Linked DNA regions of Homo sapiens. The protein of the gene in region 3 interacts with the protein of the main gene of each other region in a biochemical or structural test. Each region holds a gene or a part of one and is shown on either strand. Other genes may lie near its edges.

Region 1 (3,500 bases), on a different chromosome or scaffold from region 3:
TCTTTGACCCGTGGGTTACTTAGAAGTGTGTTGTATAGTTTGAAGAGGTTTTCTATATCTCTTTCCATAATTGATTTCTAATTTAATTCCATGCTGGTTCAAGAACATTCTTTGTATGATCCGAATCCTTTAAAATTTACCGAAGTGGGAGGAAAGGCTGGGGTCCCATGGCTGCCTGACCAGGCAGGGGGAGAAGTGTGATCCTTATTGTGAGCCACTGGAGGGCTTTCAGCAGGGAGGGATTTGGTTTGGATTGCGTTTCTTAATAAGCATGGTGGCTGTTGTGCAGAGTGCAATGTAGACATCAGGGACCAGTTTGGAGCTACAACCGTGGTGTGAACCAGGGTGTAGCCAGAGTGAAGGGAAGTAGGTGGATTTGGGAGCTGTGAGGAGGCAGGAGTGATTGACCCAGTGTACACAGGGTGAAAGAGGTGAGTTGAGGGGCCTGAGATTGAGGTGGCCCAGAGTGGGGTCTCCAGGGAAGGGCATGAGGGTAACTTTGTGGCAGGGCCACAGATATCAGTGGCATGGAGGGTTGGAGACGAGGGCTAGGAGCCTCCTGTGCTGGAAAGAGCCCTGGGCTAGGATCAGGGCCGGGTTCGGCCGTGTTTCTGCAAGCTGGCCCCTCCACCACTCTGCACTTTTGCTTCCTTGCCCATCTGAGATGGGCAGCCGGCCTCGACCATCCCAGAGTTTTCATGGCCTGGACAAGGGAGGTCTGGGCATGAATCAAGAAAAGGTGTCCCCTCCAGAAAACAAACAGCAAAAGGGTGCCGTTTGGTTGAAAGCCGAAAGTTAAGGTTCAGTATTAGGTGCTGCCCTTGACATCTGGCAAAGCCAGAAGGCCTTGGCAGGCCTGCCTGTGAGCTCCCCTTCTCCCCTTTCACTCCGCCCTGTGGATGAGGCTCCCCGGCCCAACAACCCTCATCGAGGGGACCAAGAGGGGTTCCTCTTATCCCTACGCTTGTAAGGCTCCGTTTCTCGCCAGCCTGCAGCATGATGAAACAAGCTGATTACACCTTCCCGCAGAAGCCAGGAGTTGCCCCACCCCCTTTGTGCTCCAAAGCTGCCTTCCTGCAGCCCTGGCTGCTCGCTCGGATCCTCAGTGCACCCCGCCCCATGCCTCAGTGCAGCGTCATCTTCGTGGGCTCTGCGCACGTGTGTGGTAACCTGCTGCCAGCCTCCTCTGTCTGGTGTTTGGTGGTGTGTTTGGCCGTCTTCGTAACCATAGGGCTGGAAGCCCTCCCTCACTGATGAGTAAATGAAAAGTGATTAAAACAGCTCCTTTTTTTGGAGAGGACACAGCCTTTGCTAGGGTGGGTGGTGGGGCCAGTGTAGCCGGGGCTGAGTTTCAGACCCCACACGCCTCCTTGGCTGCGTGCCTCGGGCCAGTGCACAACCTGGACACCTGTATCTGGCAGCTCTCTCAGCAGGTTCCATTTATTTGGCCGGTGCTAAGATCAGTTCACCCTGATACCTGCCCTGGGGGGTGGGTCACGTGATCATTCTCATTTCACAGATGAGGGCTCTGTATGTGGTGGGGTGAGATTGGAACCCAGTCTCTGGTTGGCGTGGCTGAGTGAAGGTGTAAAGACATGAGCCTGGCAGGGAAAGGGAGGGGAACCGTCTCGTTATTGGTTGGGCATGGCCATCTGCACAGGCTCCTGTAGGGCCCGGGTAAGGTGGGGAATCTGATCAGGGCAGGGAGAAGAGGAGTGAGCTGTGGAAGCTGCCTTCAGCCACAGCAGACGGCCACGCTGTCCACTCGGCCACGGCTGCCTGGCCTCTGCCATGCCAGGCCCTTGAAGTCGCCCAACTCGCCTCCACGCTCTGATTGGAGAAGAGGCAACTCCTTTCCAGGAGTCTTTGACTAAAGGGGCTCCATGCAGGCACAATTTCTAGAGCGAGGTACTTTCCACAGTGACGGCCTCTTGCCGGTTGCCCTGGGCTGCTGTTGATTTCCTAGAATAATCCAAAGAAAAGCAGTGCCATGTGGTGAAGTGGGTATGTACTCGGAGCTTGGGGCAAAATGGCGGTCAAGTCTTATTGGGGGGTAAACTCTATGGCATTAGGCTTTTACTCCCTTCTGTGTACCCAAGCGGGACAGTGCCTGAAACATAGTAGGTACACAACAAAAATCAATTAAATTAAAGAAAAAATGAAGTCCCAGCTTCTCCGGGTCTCTGCAGGTGTCCTTAGGCAAGTTATATAACCCTGCTGCATCTCAGTTTCCTTGGCAAAGGAATTGGACTGTAATAGCACCTCATGTGGTTGTTGTATCGATTAAATAAGGTGACATAAAACAATAAGAACTCAGTATTATTACTATCATTGTGACCTCGGTCACCATCAGAATTGAGGCGGCCCTGTGAACAGTCACCCAGGACACAATAACCACATGTCCAGAGTGCTTGCTGCAGGCCTGGCATTTTCCCAGGTGCTTTAAAATAATACTTCCCTTAAACTTGAAAACAACTCTGTGAGCCAGGCTGGGTTTTGTTTGTTTTTTCTAAACACCATCTTACAAAGGAGGAGGCTAAAGCCCACAGAAGTGGTTCTGGCTATAAAATGCAGCCAGGGAGTGCTCCCTCATTTCTCCCTGTCAAAGAATGGGTGTGAGATGGCACCATCTGTTCTCTGAGGGTTTGAAAGAACTCACCTGTTGATCTGTCTGGGCCTGAAATTCTTTGTGGGAAAATTGCACTAGGACAGTTGAGACTATCTGTATCTCCCTTTGTCAGTTTTGGTGAGAGAGGTTAAGTCACTTGCCCAGGCAGGTGGGGAACGTGGGCCCAGGCAACCTGGCTGCCAAGCCTGGGCTTTCAACCATTACATTTTCCTGCATGAGGTATGATCACTTTCTACCCATGAGACTTTGGATAAGTCACTTTCTTTCTCTGACCCTAGTAATAGTATGGGGATAGTAATAATACATTTCTGGCAGGATTGTTGGAAAGATTAAATGGTTTCAGAAACACAGGCCTTGGTACTCTTGAGCCTTTGCCCTGGGCAGCCCAGGCCTGTCTCCATCTTGGCCCAGGAGGAAGCCCAGCCCGATGCCCAGGGATCACAGGTCACTCACTGGCTCTCCAGGTCCTGGATAGTGTCAGGGAGCGGAAGTCCCTGGGTCTCCGGGAGGAAGAACAGCACAACCAGGCTGGAAGCAATGGAGATAACGCCATAGAGGAGAGGAGGCAGCAGGGGCAGGGCTTGGCGGCTCATCAGGATCAGGGGACCCATCATAGCCCCCAGCCGGCCCACTGTATGCAGAATGCCATCTGCTGTCATCCTGTGGGTGAAGGGGAGGGCCCAGATCCCTGTAACAGCTGGCCCTGTGGCAGGAAGACATCCTGGGCTCACAGATGCCAGGGGAAGGAAAGCTGGGCTGAGGGAATTGCCCTCCTCAAGGCCTCCTCTAATGCCACCTCCTCCACGGAGCCCACCCAGATTTTTGCATCTAGTGTTTCAGGGGAAATCTCTAGGGCCCACCTCATTTTCCC
Region 2 (3,500 bases), on a different chromosome or scaffold from region 3:
TTCCCATTCCCTCATTCTTTTGCCAACAACCCCCGCCCACCCCCCACCTTTTTTTTTTTTTTTTTTTTTTTGAGATAGGGTCTCACTCTGTCACCCAGACTAGACTGGTGCAGGGTGTTCACAGCTCACTGTAATCTCAGCCTCCTGAGCTCAAGCGATTCTTCCGCTTCAGCCTCTCAAGTACATGTGACTACAGGTTCACCCCACCATGCCTGGGTAATTAAAAAAAAATGTTTTTTTGGTAGAGATGGGGTTACTCAGGCTTGTCTCGAACCCCTGGCCTTGAGTGATCCTCCTGCCTAGGCCTCCCAGAGCCCAGGGATTCAGGTGTGAGTCACTGTGCCTGGCCAACACCCAAATTTTAACAGTTGTCCTGACTCATGTACCTTTCAAGCTTAAAAGAGAACATGCGCCCGGCTCTGTGGCTCATGCCTGTAATCCTGGCACTTTGGAGGCCAACGTGGGCAGATTGCCTGAGCTCAGGGATTTGAGACCAGCCTGGGCAACATGGTGAAACCCCATCTCTACTAAAATGCAAAAAAATTAGCTGGCGTGGTGGTATGAACCTGTAGTCCCAGCTACTTGGGAGGCTGAGGCAGGAGAATTGCTTGAACCCGGGAGACGGAGGTTGCAGTGAGCTCAGATCGCAAAGGTAAAGAAGGAAGTGCTTGTTGTTATTAGGGTGAGAGGGTAGCATTTGTTAAACTTGGCTAGAGCCAGTGCAAATAGAATTTGGGAAGGTCTGGTGATTTTTTCATAGCTATTTACAAGCTACTACTCCTCAGCATGCAACTCAAAGGACATTTTGAGTATTAATAAGATTATTTCATGAACTGCTTTGATTTTGTTTGCTGAAATGTACCTTATAAATTATGATTTTACGATTGAAGAGTATATGTAGATTTATATTTTTTTCTCTCTCTTTTCAGAATTATGTTGAATTTCTCAATCAGGCAGATTTCTAAATGTGAGATAATTGCTATAAAATTGTCAGAAAGTTCCAAAGCAGTCTGAAACACAGTAGTGGGTTCAATCAATGATTAGTTTCATTTCTTTTCAAAGGCATCACTAGATTTTCCTTATGGCTCTGGAGTTGTTTTCAAACTTTGTTCTTCTGAATCACCTGAAGTACTTGATATGGTAGGAATATTTCTGTCCCCTCAAATTTCATATGTTGAAATCTTAACTTGGTATTAGGTGTTATACCTCCTATAACAATGGTATTAGGGAGTGGTGTATTTGGGAGGTGGGGCTTTTGCTCATAGGGGTGGAACCCTTCTGAATGGGATTAGTTCCTTTATAAAAGAGACCTCCGAGAGCTCCTTTGCCCCTTCCACTATGTGAAGACACAGTGAGAAGCCAGCAGTCTTACAGCCAGGAAGAGAACCCTCACCAGAACCCTGATCTCAGAATTCTGGCCTCCAGAGCTGTGAAAAATAAATTTCTACTATTTATAAGCCAGCCAATCTCTGCTGATTTGTTATTGCAGCCTGAATAGACTAAGACAGTACTTGTTTAAAATATGCATTTCCCACCTGTCCTCCCAGAAAATTCTGATCCAGGAGGTTCGAGGTGGGACCTGGGAAACATTTTCAACAAGGTTCTCAAGTGATAATTAAAATGAGCAACACTGCGTTGGAACAGTGGTTCTCAACTCTAACTGGGCAGCTTTAAAAAATCCTGGTCCCTGGATCCTACCTCTAACCAATGTAATCAGAATCTTTGGTGGCAGGACCCAGGCATTTGTACTTTTTAAAAAAGAATCCTCAGGTGGCTTTAATATGCACCTAGGATTGACAATCATTGTTCTCAATGTTCTTGTGAATATTAAAATAGATTCTGGAAAAATGCTGTGGGATAATACATTTTTACCTCTAGTGCTTCCCTAAGATAAAATATATTTAATTTGAGTAAGTGTTAAAATCAGAATATTTCAGATACCATGTAGAGTCAATTTGAGTACCAGATAGTCAACATTTCTGGGGTGAAATAAGTCAGTCTCTAGACTTTCTTCAAGAACTTTACCAATATTCTATTTGGGCTTTTAATCATGTATATAATTCACCCTAGTAACCCCTTAGCAACAGACTGTGATATGCAGATAGGATGCAAATTATCAGGTGAAGAAAGTAGAGAAATGCAGAAGCAAGATTTGAGGTTAATTGTGGTAGAATTTAAAATTGTGGCCAGGAACAGACTTCATTATCCTCCTTCTTTTTGCTTCCAGAAAAGAATCTGCACAGGTGTATTTACCTAGGTGATCTCCAGTATGGCGATTCTTAATTGTCCATCTCAGCTTTTGGAATATGTGGAAAGCCAGGCTCTGATCTGGATAATGACACAAGGATGTTGGCAGATTATTATGTCTCTTGATTTCAGGGAGTTTAGCTTTATTTTTGTAGTGAGGTGCATTAGTTGAGGAAGATCCAGTACCAGATGGTAATGTTGGCTGGGAGTGGTTTTCTCACCTACATTTGGCAGCTTTACTCGGAAGTGGTGCTTTCAGTGCCTGAGACTTCCAGTCTATGCTACTTAACATGATCATTGGGAAGCTTTAGGTGGTATAGAAGCAATGACACATCTCATTAAAGGTCCCATAACTATGAACATCTGACATCTGTGCTGCAAATAGGACTGAATAAAGCCTTCAAGTGGTTACAGATTCAAGGGGTATGTTGTTTTTTAAAGGCACGGCTGAAATTCGTTATATTTACCAGTCTTGTAATTTCTAGAGGCATTTTTGACTGGAAGACATAGATTACACATTAATAAACTGCTCCTTTCAAAGATGACCTCCTCCTAAATGGGTTCCCTCTTTCCCAGCATTTAGACAATGGTTTCAGCTGATGGCTTATCCATGATTTAGCAATAATCATAACAATAGCTATCATAATTTGATACCTATAATATGCTAGGATACTTTATATATAAGTGATACAATAGCTCTCCAAGATATTCCCACTTTGTGGATGAGGAACCTGGGGCTCTGAGGAATTAAGGAACTTGCCAAAGACCATAAAACTCCTAAGTGACAGAGCCAGGATTCTGCCAGCTGTCTGGTTGCCCAGTGGAGTCTCTGTCCATCTTGTCACCAGCCCCCGCACTGTGTACAGGAATGGAATCAGCATTCATTGCTATAAACTGCAGTAAGGTAAGTGAACATTCATAAAAGTTGGCCTGTAGTTTAGTATTTAAACTGGAAAAATAAAAAAAGGCAAGACAACCAGATTCAGCCTTCAAGGATCTTACCATCCAGTTCTTTTATCACATTAAAAAATAACAGCCTGATTCTTTATACACATTTCTAGATGCTTTAAATTTTTAAAATAGTGAGCTGTTTAGTGAAATCAGAAAATAATTTTTAAAAATCTAAATATGTTCATCCTAAATTTGGCCTGGTTCCTTACAGCTGCAGAAATTCATTTTCACCCCATTCCCCATCCCCCTTCCTGAAGCCCTAAAGCACACACCCAGTGGGAGTCCCCTCTGTTTCCCAAAGG
Region 3 (3,812 bases):
ATTTCTCTGATTCATGTTGTCATAATGTGATTACAAAAGACATGCTAAGTCTGGATTGATGCAAAAACAGGAGGGGGAATTATTAATAATCACAATTTATCTGGCAGACAAATTCTTTTAAGTCTATACTCCATGAGAAAAAGTAATAAACAGGCTTCACAGTGGTTTAACGTTATAAGGGACTGAAGTGGACAGAGTGACCTCCTAAGGTCTGTGTTACCCACCCTCCCCAACCCACTCCAATAAAACAAACTACAGTCAAAAATTACACAAATATTCTCAAGACAGAAACCAATACTGATGAAATTAAAATCTAAAACCATAAAAACCCTAGAAGAAAACCTGGGCAATACCATTCAGGACATAGGCATGGGCAAAGACTTCATGACTAAAACAGCAAAAGCAATGACAACAGAAGCCAAAAATGACAAATGGGATCTAATTAAACTAAAGAGCTTCTACACAGCAAAAGAAACTATCATCAGAGGCAACAGGCAACCTACAGAATGGGAGAAAATTTTTGCAATCTGTCCATCTGACAAAGGGCTAATATCCAGAATCTACAAGGAACTGAAACAAATTTACAAGAACAAAACAACCCCATCAAAAAGTGGGCAAAGGATATGAACAGACACTTCTCAAAAGAAGACATTTATGCGGCCAACAAACATATGAAAAAAGCTCATCATCACTGGTCATTAAAGAAATGCAAATCAAAACCTCAATGAGATACCATCTCACGCCAATTAGAATGGCGATCATTAAAGTCAGGAAACAACAGATGCTGGAGAGGATGTGGACAAATAGGAACATTTTTACACTGTTGGTGGGAGTGTAAATTAGTTCAGCTATTGTGGAAGACAGTGTGGCGATTCCTCAAGGATCTAGAACCAGAAATACCATTTGACCCAGCAATGTCATTACTGGGTATATACCCAAAGGATTATAAATCATTCTACTATAAAGGCACATGCACACATATGTTTATTGCAGCACTATTTACAATACCAAAGACTTGGAACCAACCCCAATGCCCATCAATGATAGACTAGATAAAGAAACTACCATACATATACACCATGGATACTATGTAGCCATAAAAAAGAATGAGCTCATGTCCTTTGCAGGGACATGGATGAAGCTGGAAACCATCATTCTCAGCAAACTAACACAGGAACAGAAAACCAAACGCTGCATGTTCTCACTCATAAGCAGGAGGGAGAGCTTTAGGACAAACACCTAATGCATTCAGGGCTTAAAACCCAGATGATGGGTTGACAGGTGCAGCAAACCACCATAGCACAAGTATAACTATGTAAAAAACCTGCATGTTCAGAACATGTATCCCAGAACTTAAAGTAAAAAAAAAAATAAATAAATAAAAGTACAGTGAGCTCCCAGCTATCTGTGCTAGAAGCAGAATAGTTTATGCACTGAGAAAAAGGAGGAGGAGAGTAGCGGGGCCCACCCTCTGCCTCCTCAGGCACTCTGTGAGGTTATCCCTGGATCCCTGGGAGCAGGAAGAGGGCTGACGGGTGAAACTGAAGACAGAAAAATATAGCTCTGAAAAGTAAGCTGCACTATAATGAAGGCGTGAAGGACACCAGCTGCACCCAATAAGAAGGTGGTGAGAGGTGCCGGAGTGTTTTCCTCGGCATGTGTTACTGACACATGTGGAACCTGTTTCTCTGTAGGTCTTTAAATCAGAGAAGATTCTCCTAGCCCTGGGATAATTAGGGACACTTATTTAAAGGTTGAGGATTCAACTACATGACCTCTGAAGAATGCATCCTTCAAGCCTGAAGATATACGTAAAGCAAAAACCATTTATTTGACATAGAATTAAATAATTTATCACTTGTGTCTTAACATTTAAGCCCATCTATAGAACTACATGAAAACAAAATTTGTCTGTTGTGGTAATTCAGGCATTCTTTCAACAAAGATTTAACATGTCCAACACATACAGCAATGCTGGAGAAGCAAAGTACAGAAAGATTAGAGAGGTGAGGGAAACACAGAATTTTCCACTGTAAGCAGCATAAGAGATTATTCAGAGGAATAGGAGGAGGACAGAATTAATCAGGGAAGACTTCTTACAAGGGATGAAATCTAAATCAAGTCTGAATTTGTGATGATCACAAATTGGCAGACAAAGAATGACAGAAAGAGAAACCAAAAGGGCATTTACACATTAAGGACTACCCATAAACAAAGGCATGGAATTGCAGTTTTCTAAAGAAAAAATTAGCCTGGAAGCTATGGAGGGACCATGATGGAGAACAAGGTCAGGCCCAGTGGACTATGGCCTTGGACACTCTGAGGAAGGTGCTCCAACACAAAGCAAAACATTGTGACTGGTTCTTAAAAAACTACTCCCGAGACACATGCAAACGCCCATGGCTCTTCCTTACCTTTCCCATAGAAGAATTTGCGGTAATAATAGGCCCCAAGGTCAATGTGTTCTATGATGTAGCGCTTCACTTTCTCCCTGTGAATAGGCTGGTTTTCTCTGGGCACTTCCAAGACGGAGACACCTGCATTTGTGCAGTGAGAGCTGAGTGACGATTCGAAAGAGCAGCTTTCCCCAGAACTGAAAGAGGATGAGTTGGCTCGAGAGAGCGCAATCCGCCTGTCGCCTTCCCCTCCAGTCTCATTTCTAAAGTAAGGACAACTAAGGACGAGGTCGTTACTTTTCCCATCACCCTCATCGGCATCCAGGTTCTCTTTGGAGTTGAGGTCCTCCTTGCTCCCTAAAGGGGACTCACAGTTGCCTGTCTGGCCCGTAGGCATCTGAGTCTGGGATGCTGCAGATGCCCCAGTGGTTATGTTTTTCCTTTTCCCCACATTAGCCCTCGTAGCCATGGCTTCGTTGATATTAAACAAAATGCTCTGGACATCATAATGTGCAAAACATCGCTGACAATTCCAAGGGCGAATGCCCCTCTCCAGTCGGCTCTCCTCCAGCTCAGACGTGAACTTGAAAGTTTCGTGCTCACTTTTAACAGTTCGAAGCTTTCGGAAGAGAGATGTTTCCACCGACTCTGATTTCAACCTCCGTTTGAAAGGCTTGTCCCTGTCTCTCCCCATCAGGAGGGCACTGTCCACATAATCTAATCCTGAGATGCGGACAAATTCTCCCCTAGAAATCTGTGCTGCTGCATGAAGGCTCGGAGAGATTGCAGGGTCACAGCGGAAAAATTCAGGGAACCCAAAAGGGACCATTGCTTTGTGGTCATAATTTTCTACTCGGTACCCTCTGAGCATAGCAAAAAAGTTTTCACCAGATAAGCCTTGCCTGTCGATGGATGAAGTACTTCCATACTCCCTGTGCAGGGCAGCCCCGGTGTTGGGGTTGACTGCATTTTGGTCTAAGACATCTTCGGCATCAATGTCACTGATAGTGACATCACTATTGCTCCTCTGTCTTATGGGGTGAAGTCCTCTTTGGGGGGAATGGACAAAGATGTCTCCGATTGTGTACTTGGCCTCCACGAAGTCCAGATCGAGCTGTTCATCTTGCTGACCTTCACTCTGGTCACTCTGCCCATTCTGCAGGACAGAAGTGATGCTTTCATAACTGGTCTGAGACCGGCTTTCCCACAGTGCCTTGCATGTTAGCTCCTTGGAACAGTCCTTTTTAGGAGGCCATTCAGACACCCTTGCTCTCACACCCATCTTGGGCACAGCTGGGGTACCATTAGCCGGACCACCACCGCCAGTCTCATTGGAATTCGAGGCATTTAAAGAAGTAGTGGGTCCCATGTTGCCATTAATGGCTTTAAATTTCCGAGCAAAATAATCATCTGACT
Region 4 (3,104 bases), on a different chromosome or scaffold from region 3:
CGTCAGGCTCTGCAAGAGAAGAAGGGAGGACGCCAGGGTGGTGAGTCCCTGAACCAGCACATGCAGGCATTCCTTCCTCCTGGGCCCCAGCCCCGCCTGCCAGGAGGCGCGGGATCACCGGGTAAACACGATTAGTCATGTTTAGCTTGGCCGGGAATCACGTTAAGCAAATTGTTTGGAAAATAAGCCAGGAGAGGAAGGAGCGGCGGGCAGGTGGCCCCGGGAGCCCAGACGGACGGCTGCTGTCGATATGGCGACAGCTGCCCTGTGGCCGCCCCTGCACCCAGATGGCGCCTGGCCTGGCCGCAGCATCCTGGAGTCTGAGGCCAGCACCTGCGTCTCCCTGAAGCCCCTCAGAGCCTGCCCTGCAGTGCTGCTGCCCTCGTCTACCAGGTAAGGAGCCGAGGCCCAGCGGGCGGCCCCTCCCGGGACACACAGGGAGAGGTGGCAGTGGAGAGAGATGGGGCCGGTGGTCGGCCCCCTGTCCGCCTGGGATGAATGGCACCTGGCTAGGACGACCTGAGAAGTGGCTGGACGTGGTGTCGCCACCGCAGCCTCGAGGGACTTTCACCGGGGTGCCCGCTGCCCGTTGGCCCCGAACCTCTCTCCAGGCCAGCGCAGGGACCGTCACCCCCACAGCAATGACAGACATCTGTAAACCCAGGCGGGGGCACAGCACAGGGCCAGAGAGACACCACCCTCCCCACGGGGCGGCTGCAGAGAAGCAAACACACAAACCACACAGAGTGGTCACACGGAGCCCCAGGAGTCACACAGGGCGAAGGAGGGGGGACTGCGGGCGGGGGCTGCACACCCTGCAGCCCGGAGGAGAAGCCGCGGTGGGGGGTGTGGGCGGGTCAGAGGCATAGCGTATGGGGGCTGCAGCCACCTGACACTGCCCAGTCCCATCGGAGCTTTGAGCCCCCTCCCAGGCCCTGGAACCCCCCACTGTGGCCCAGAGAGAGAACAGGGGAGACTTGGGGGAGGGGAGGGAGGGGTGTCCATGGAGAAGGGTGGGCTGGGAATGGTGACGTCTGTGGGTCCAAGGCCATGGGCACGTGTGTACCTCGTATATTGTTTTTGTATTTTTCTGCATGTTTGAAATCATTCATAAAAATGATACTCCGGCTGGGTGCAGTGGCTCAAGCCTGTCATCCCAGCACTGTGGGAGGCCGAGGCGGGTGGATCACCTGAGGACAGGAGTTCAAGACCAGCCTGGGCAACATGGTGAGACCCCCGTCTCTACAAAAAATACAAAAATTAGCCAAGTGTGGTGGCGGGCGCCTGTAGTCCCAGCCACTGAGGAGGCTGAGTCAGGAGGATCATTTGAGCCCAGGAGGTTGAGGCTGCAGTGAGCTGTGATTACACCACTGCACGCCAGCCTGGGTGACTGAGCAAGACCCTGTCTCAAAAAGAAGATCAATGCCTCCCCTGACGAGTGGGGCGGAGGAAGTCCGGATGTTTGGGTTGACCCTGGAGCTGTGTGACTCTGGGGGTGGCCAGCAGAGAATCAAAGTGTCCCCTAGGATCCAGACCAGGGACAAGCCCCTCCCTGGGGGACCTCGGCCTGAGCAGGGGTGGAGCCGGCTGTGGTGACCTCAGCATGTGCCGTCTGGAGCCCTGGGGCTGCTCAGCTGACCGGCCCTGACCCTGGAGGCACCTCAGAGCACAGGACGACCCCAGCAGCTGCCAGGAAAGGCCACAGTCCTGGCTGGGGGCTGTGGGGCTGGGCCAAGGCCACTGAAATCTGGTAGACAAGGAAAGGAGAGCTGGGGACGGGGGAGCCCAGAACACAAGGCTGACAGCACAAAGAGAAAGCCCTCTGTCCCCAACAAACCTAGAAATCAACATCCCCAAGCTCGCATGGCCCAAACACACTAAGAAATACGACTCAGAAAATCAACAGGGCCAGTGGACCCATGGATCCATCTCAGGGAGATAAAAATAACGAGCAAACAGGTACGCTTAGGCTATGTTTAAATATGTGCAGGATCCACAGAGACAGCATGGATAAAATGTTAGGAAATACATTTGGCTTCTGTCTAAGGAGTAAAATGAACAGGCATCTATTTTTAAAAATTACAAATCCTGGATGTAAAAAATACAATCATTTAAGTGGAAAAAAACACTACAAAAGTGGTCAGAACCAACTCCAGTGTGGACAGCACTGAAGAGAGAATTGGTGAATGGGAAGAGGGTTGAAAGATTCACTGGAGCAGGGTGCTGGCACAAGGTCCAGAGAGGGCTCTGTGGGGTGGGCAGGGGGAGAGCATGGCTGGGCTCCCCCAGAACTGGCGACAGGATCCCTTCTGGGAGCGCACCTGTCCCAAGCAGCATAAAGGAATGAAAGAGCATCCCCATCAAGCTGCGGCATCTGGGCAGGGACGCCAGCCAGAGAGACACCAGCCAGAGAGACAGGACGGATTCCCACAGGCAGGAGCCAGAGTGCAGCAGAATCCTCAGCAGGGACGGAGCAGTGGCCTCCACGCAGACCCCGGGGTGGGAGAAGAGGGGAGGTGGGGAGGGAGAAAGAAAGACAGGGTGTGGGGAGAGAGGGAGGGAGAGGGAGAGGGAGAGGGAGAGGGAGAGGGAGGGGGTGGCAGGGAGGGAGAGAGAAAGATAGGGTATGGGGGAGAGGGAGGGGGAGGCGGGGAGGGAGAGAGAAAACAGGGTAGGGGGAGAGAGAGAGGAGGGAGAGGGAGAGGGATGGGGAGGCGGGGAGGAGAGAGGGAGAGAGGGAGGGAGAGGGAGGGGGAGGGGAGGAGAGAGGGAGAGAGGGAGGGAAAGGGAGGGGAGGTGAGGGGGGAGGGAGAGGGAGGGGGAGGTGGGGAGGGAGAGAGAAAAGGTGGGGGGAGAGGGAGGGGGAGGAGGGGGAGGGAGAGAGAGGGGGAGGTGGGGAGGGAGAGAGAAAGACAGGGTGGGGGGAGAGAGGGAGGGAGAGAGAGTGGGGGGGGAGAGAGAGAGACAGGGTAGGGGGAGAGAGGGAGGGAGGGAGAGGGAGAGGGAGGGGAAGAGGCCTGTGGCTCTCCGCTCCCCAGGGACCAGCATGGAAATCCAACACGCCATGTTTGCGGCTCCCTCTGGCTGCCTGTGGAGCATGCATT

The links. The genes of interacting proteins can lie anywhere in the genome.
Region 1: the proteins of SIPA1L2 (region 3) and SLC22A11 interact in a test that uses a peptide from one of them, tested with the Homo sapiens proteins (one large-scale study listed by IntAct).
Region 2: the proteins of SIPA1L2 (region 3) and SLC15A5 interact in a test that uses a peptide from one of them, tested with the Homo sapiens proteins (one large-scale study listed by IntAct).
Region 4: the proteins of SIPA1L2 (region 3) and SSTR5 interact in a test that uses a peptide from one of them, tested with the Homo sapiens proteins (one large-scale study listed by IntAct).

Annotation. Positions count from the first base shown.
Region 1 is NC_000011.10:64,569,441-64,572,940, reverse strand, and holds the end of SLC22A11 (solute carrier family 22 member 11), read right to left. Parts: intron 3,290-3,500; coding exon 3,083-3,289; intron 1,963-3,082; coding exon 1,899-1,962; 3' UTR 66-1,898; downstream 1-65. UniProt on the Homo sapiens protein: Antiporter that mediates the transport of conjugated steroids and other specific organic anions at the basal membrane of syncytiotrophoblast and at the apical membrane of proximal tubule epithelial cells, in exchange for anionic compounds.
Region 2 is NC_000012.12:16,267,686-16,271,185, forward strand, and holds part of SLC15A5 (solute carrier family 15 member 5), read right to left. Parts: exon of another isoform or gene 2,228-3,500; intron 1,141-2,227; exon of another isoform or gene 610-1,140; intron 1-609. UniProt on the Homo sapiens protein: Proton oligopeptide cotransporter.
Region 3 is NC_000001.11:232,511,443-232,515,254, forward strand, and holds part of SIPA1L2 (signal-induced proliferation-associated 1-like protein 2), read right to left. Parts: coding exon 2,415-3,812; intron 1-2,414.
Region 4 is NC_000016.10:1,075,747-1,078,850, reverse strand, and holds part of SSTR5 (somatostatin receptor type 5), read right to left. Parts: intron 1,228-3,104; exon of another isoform or gene 1,139-1,227; intron 394-1,138; exon of another isoform or gene 120-393; intron 26-119; exon of another isoform or gene 10-25; 5' UTR 1-9.